Homo sapiens: one gene and its partner. The protein of the gene in region 2 interacts with the protein of the main gene of each other region in a biochemical or structural test. Each region holds a gene or a part of one and is shown on either strand. Other genes may lie near its edges.

Evidence for each region.
Region 1: the proteins of TRIM25 (region 2) and G3BP1 form a complex in vitro, tested with the Homo sapiens proteins (one study listed by BioGRID).

What each region holds. Positions count from the first base shown.
Region 1 is NC_000005.10:151,795,885-151,799,638, forward strand, and holds part of G3BP1 (ras GTPase-activating protein-binding protein 1), read left to right. Parts: intron 1-1,342; coding exon 1,343-1,544; intron 1,545-3,327; coding exon 3,328-3,429; intron 3,430-3,754. UniProt on the Homo sapiens protein: Protein involved in various processes, such as stress granule formation and innate immunity. Plays an essential role in stress granule formation.
Region 2 is NC_000017.11:56,887,255-56,890,049, forward strand, and holds the end of TRIM25 (E3 ubiquitin/ISG15 ligase TRIM25), read right to left. Parts: 3' UTR 655-2,795; downstream 1-654.

The DNA.
Region 1 (3,754 bases), on a different chromosome or scaffold from region 2:
ATTAAATGCTTTGAGGGAATATGAAGTGGACAGAGACCTATTTAATTAGAGATCGGGCATAAATTGATATAAATACCAATATGTGAGTTAAGTAGCAATAAAGAATTTCATTACGTTAGTAAGTGCATCATTATACCTTTGGGTTTTTTCCCCCTTGTGATTAGAACAGAAATGTGTTTGATAGCAATAGAAATCCATATTTACTTGTTACCATGTGATACTGAATGTTAATATTCAGTGCCTGAAGGGTGTTTTCAAGTGTTTCTTAAGGTGTGATGAACTAATCAGGTTACTCACTTGGGTTGCTGGTTGAAAATGAAGATTCATGGTCCCACTGCAAACCTACCGAATTAGACTTTCAGGAGGCAAAACATCTGCAGTTTTGTTTGTTTTTGTTCTATTGAGACAGAGTCTTGCTCTGTTACCCAGGCTGGAGTGCAGTGGCGCGATCTTGGCTGACTGCAACCTCCGCTTCCTGGATTCAAGCAATCCCCCTGCCTCAGCCTCCTGAGTAGCTGGGACTACAGGCGCACGCCACCATGCCCGGCTAAGTTTTGTGTTTTTGTAGAGATGGGGTTTCGCCATATTGGCCAGGCTGGTCTGGAACTCCTAATCTCAGGTGATCTGCCCACCTTGGCCTCGCAAAGTGCTGGGATTACAGGTGTGTGCCCAGCCCCCTCTGCAGTTTTAACAGCATTTCTGGTTGATTTATGTGGAATTTTAAGAATTGTATTCTGAATCATAACTATTTTCTCCCCCAAATTCCTTATGTGCTTGAAAGAGTTTTTGTGTGTTTGTGTTAAAAGCCACATATCATAAAATTTGCCATCTTAACCTTTTTTTCATCTTAACCATTTTTAAGTGTAAAGTACAGTAGTGTTAACTGTATAGATGTGGTTCTATGACAGATATCTAGGACTTTTCACCTTACAACTTTTATTGAAGATAACTTTATATACCTTATAAACAGACTATACCCATTGAATGGCAACTTTCTTTCCCGCCCCCCCCGCCCCAGCCTATTTTGAGAGTTTTTCTGATGTTGTATGCTAAATGAATTGTAATAGTTGTGGGATTCCAGCCATAAAGTGGTTTGGTTCATTTTGATGTCCTGATTCATTTGCTTATCAGAATTTGCCAAACAAATGGATTCCAGTTAAGTTATTGAGTGGCATTTTAAAAATTACTTTTTAAAAACTCAGATAGATATACAATTCTTAGATTTTTGTTTTGGATAGAAGGAGCTAACTCTGTGTTCTGGTTTCTGATTAATAAATGATGGAGGAATTTTTTGTGAAATAAATGGTGGCAGAATGATATTTCTCAAATTTTCCTGTCAAAGTAATGACATGGAAGAACATTTAGAGGAGCCTGTTGCTGAACCAGAGCCTGATCCTGAACCAGAACCAGAACAAGAACCTGTATCTGAAATCCAAGAGGAAAAGCCTGAGCCAGTATTAGAAGAAACTGCCCCTGAGGATGCTCAGAAGAGTTCTTCTCCAGCACCTGCAGACATAGCTCAGACAGTACAGGAAGACTTGAGGGTATGAAACGTGTCTTCATTTTTATTCTATTCCTAGTTATTTTTTTTAAAAAAAGTTTCTGTTCTTTTGTATTGCTGTTTGGTTGACTTGTAGATACATTTTCATATTGGTGGTTCATTTCAGGGAAATTTCTTAGATATTGAGCCATATGTTTGATAAGAGAGAGGTAAGATGTGTATTAGTTTATTTCATCAAAAGAAACCACTCCCTTCCCCGAGGTAACTTGAATGCCTGTTAGACCAGAAATTTTAGGTGCCACTGTAGCACCCTATCAGTGATTCCTTTTCTATTTAATATTTAATCTTTTACACTATAAATTATTACATACTTGTTACTACAAGTGCATAACATCTTTTCAAGAAAAATAACATGGCAGAATATACTTTTTCTATGAAATTTTATTGAAGATAACTTTATAGTGGAAGTAGAAATGAACTGCTGAAGTAAAACTTCTTTTCTAGTTGGCATACCTGATTTCAGAAGTTTTCAGTTTGTCCTTCTGAGTCTCGTCAGGGTGATTGTTAACTGAACTATCGTTGAAACCTTTGCATTTGGTGCTCTGGAAAGGAATATAATTTTTAGTGCTGTGTTTATAGGCTCAGGGTTATGTCATTTGTTTGTTCAATAATTCAAATTCCTGCTGTGTGTTAGGCATTGTTCAAAGTGTAGGTTTTATATTGGCAAAACAGATAGGGGTTCTTGTTCTCTGGCAGCTAATAGGTGAGTAGGAAAGAGCAATGTTGAAATGACTTTAGCTTGCAAGTGGAAAAAATTAGCTGGGCATGGTGGTGCCTATGTGTGGTCCCACCTGCTTGGGAGGCTGAGGTAGGAGGATGGCTTAGCCTGGGAAGTCAAGGCTGCAGTGAGCTATGATTATGCCACTGCATTCCAGCCTGGGTAATAGAGTAAGACCTTGTCACAAGAACAAAACCATAAGAAGCAAGTGGAAAAGTAGGTTGGCTGGACCAGCTGACCACTTAGTTGGTTATTATAGTAACCCTAGTGAGAGAGAATGATGGCTTGAATTAGAGTTGTGGCAGTGGAAATGGAAAAGAAATAATTAGGTAGAATAACAGGTTCTGGCGATTTTTAAATGTGCGAGAAAGGTGTTTATGATGATTCTACAATTGATGTAATTGAGTCGATGTTTGTACAATGGATTGGATGGAATCACAGTAGGAAGAGCTGAGCTGATTTTGGAGGAGAGGGAATTTTGTTTGATTCACAGATTTGAATGAAAGTAGCTTTTGTTGGGCCAGGCGTTGTGGCTTACGCATTTAATCCCAGCACTTTGGGAGGCTGAGGCCAGGAGGATTGCTTGAGTTTAGGAGTTCAAGACCAGCCTGGTCAATATAGTGAGACTTCATCTCTACTAAAAAGAAAAAATAGCTGGACATGGTGGCACATGCCTGTAGTTTCAGCTGCTTGGGAAACAGGTGGGAGGATCACTTGAGCACAGGAGATGTAGGCTGCAATGAGCTGTGTGCATGCCACTGCATTCCAGCCTGGGCAACAGAGCAAGATTCTGTCTCAAAAAAAAAAGTGAGTAGTTTCTTGAACCTAAGCCTCTCGGATTTGCTTGGTACTTGATCATCAGTCCCAAGGAATTTCAGTACTAAATTTTGAATAGCTGAAAGAGAAGAATCTTAATATATATATATAAACTCCATCCTGCCTATGAGAATGTGTTACCGTTTGTTCTGTACAGGAAATCAAGAGTTAGTAGCTTTTATATTGTTTTGATACCTGGTATAATTATGTAATGTTGGTATTGCTCCCTTAGACATTTTCTTGGGCATCTGTGACCAGTAAGAATCTTCCACCCAGTGGAGCTGTTCCAGTTACTGGGATACCACCTCATGTTGTTAAAGTACCAGCTTCACAGGTAAGGTCCTAATAAAACTTGTACATTAGGCAAATTTACTTCTATTGTGGTAATTTGATTCAACAGAGGTTTAGAGAATGTGAAAACTGGTCAGGTGCAGTGTGGCTCATGCCTGTAATCCCAGCACTTTAGGAGGCTGAAGCCAGCTGATCACTGGAGCCTAGGAGTTTGAAACCAGTCTGGGCAACATAGTGAGACCCTGTCTCTACAAAAAATAAGAAATTAGCTGGGCCTTGTGGCATGCATCTGTAGTCCTAGCTACTTAGGAAGCTGAGGTGGGAGGATTGCTTGAGTCCCGGAGGTTGAGGCTGCAGTGAGTCATGAT
Region 2 (2,795 bases):
GCAAGTCCAAACTTAGCCCATGGGTCACCCCAGCAGACCACAAATGACTTAAAAACCACACATGCGTGCACACACACACACACACGCACTCCCAGCTTGCCTTTAGTAAGGAGTCACAAATTACCATCCTGAACTTTTTATTGGAAAAAAGTGTCCCCGGACAGTTGAAGAGTCATCTCTGAATAGAAAGACAAGTCTATCACTGACATACTGAGTATTTTTATGGTTACAGTGACAGTGAGGAAGAAAAAACTACAAGAGGGGTTGGAGATGAGCGAGAACAAAACTCAGGACAGTAAACAAAGGGGACTTCACACAGGTGAGAAGAAACTCAGGAGGCTCCCATGAAGAGTAGTGTGTTTTGTTCCAACAGGCTGGTCGAGAAGGGCTTACTCAAGGTGTGCAGATCCCACCGCCTCTGTTCTGACACCACCTGGTGTACCGCACCACAATTCTAACAACGACCAGCAGAGTTAGATCAGATGCCACCAGCGAAGGGACATAGTCCCCAACAGGGCTGCCCTCACCTCAGACACCAGCCCCATGTGGGGATCCCAGGCCATCAGCGCTTGTGACCAACTGCCTACAATCCCAGGAGGGTACCATGATCTTCCTCAGGTTCAATGATTCACTAAAAATCACAGAACTCAGGACTATACTTATGATTAGTTTTATTATAAAGGATACAAATCAGCTCCACAAGCCAAGGAAGACACAGGGAAAGGTCTGGAAGGGTCTTGAGCACAGTGCTCCCATGCCCCCTCTTCGTGGAATTAGGGCACACTGCCCTGCCGGCATAGCCACAGCTTCACCACCCAGGAAGCTATGCTGAGCTTTAGTGTCCAGAGTTTTTATTAGGGTTTCATGATGTACTGATTAAAGCACTGGCCAGATGATTAAACTCAGCCTCCAGTCCCCCGCCCCATAGGTCAGGCTGACTCAAAGCCTCAAACCTCTAATCACATGGTCAGTCTGTCTGGTGACCAGCCCCAGCTCTGAGTCATCCCACCTTTTAGCATAAGCTCAGGTGTGATCCCATGGCCTCACAAATAACAAAGACACTCCTATTACCCTGGAAATGTCAAGGACTGAAAGTCTCCCTCCCAGGAAGCAGGGACAAAGGCCAGTTCAATTCTTTAGACAACCTCCAATCCACACCTCCTGGAACTCCTACCCCAATTGAAACAAGGATAAAATCCACTGAACATGGAGGGCCCATTGCTGGCCTGAACTATTTTTGTTTCTTTTTTTTTTTTAAAGCTTTTTATTATAGACATTTTCAAACATATACAACAGTAAAATGAATAATATAATGAACCCTCACACCTCCATCCCTAGTAACTGATTATCCGTGTGTGGCTTACTCTTTGATCGATACTCTCCTGCTTTCCCCTAGCCCCCACAGTTAGACTGTCCCGCAGCAAAGCCCAGACAGACATCCTATCGGTCTGAGAATTCCTTATCAAAAGCTTCCCGAAGAGGAACTCTATATAGGGCAGGACTAAGTGTGCTGGCTATAGGTCTGCAGAAATCTCAACCCTTGGGAGCCCTTGGGTGGGGCCTGGGCAGGTCCCTGGGCAGTAGCCGTCTGTAGTGGGCGGCTCATCTGCTGACAACAGTATGACGAACAAATAGCATTTTGTACCCGCACTACAATGCAGGAGAACGCCAAACACCGCTTTATTGCATTCAAACCTTCTAAGGCACGTCAGCCAGCCCTGGCCTTGTCTACAGCCATGATTATCTCCTTAAAGAGTTAACTCTAAAAAAATATTAAGCTCAAGAAATAACAGCTCAAATACTCCTAACTAATTAAAATCAATAGTGAGAGGCAGAATACGGTAAAAGATAACATATTAGTATTATTGATCACAGATCAATTTCAGAGTACTTAAAACAGGAATAATCAGCTACCACATCTTGAAAAATACAAAGACTTGATCCTAACCTTTTATTTATCATGCCACACGGACTGAGACAGTCCCCAGTACCTGGGTCTAGGAGAGTTATTTTATGTTTGTGTTTCTGGGAATTTCCGATACTTCCCAGTGTATCAGAGTGTTCCCCTCACACATGCTAGCAGGCATCTCCCCACTAATGGAATAGCAAGAGTGGTGAACAGAGCGATCCTCTACTTTCTCATCATATTCTGCAAAATGAGAAGTCAGATGGATACAAAGGTTCCTCCAACTCTAGGACTCCAGGGTTGTGTGGCGGCCCTGCAAGGCTAGGTTATGTAAGGTCTCACCATTGCAAACAGAATGGTTCAAGACAGCAAGGATGCACTCCTCAATTTACAACTCCAAAGCACCTTGCACAGAGCTTGGCTTTGGTTACCTACTTGACTCTCTTTTAAACAGAGGGTCTTATGCTTCCCTATCCTGAGCTGCACATTTGCCAGGGAAGTGGCCTCACTGTTGCCCTCATTTCTGCAGAAGAGAGCCAGAGCAGGAGCCATGGATTTATCTCTGGCATTCTACTCCTCCAAGCCCAGCTGTTTCCCAAGTATTAATTGGTTTCAGACAAGGCTTTCGTTTCAGAAAATCAATGAAGATGCTTTTGATCATCTTCAAAAGCAGAGAAGAATCACCAAAGAACTTTTCTTCCAAGTAGTAAAGGAATAAAACTTCTAAGGACCACATATCACCTATTGCAGGGATGTCTTTCCTACAAAGATTATTGCTCTCCCGAGGAACTGAAAATCCTTGTTAGGAGATGACACCGATCAGGTATGTACCTGCATGTCAGGTGTGTAGCTGTCAGGAATATCAAGTGTTCTGAGCCTGCCTAGAGTG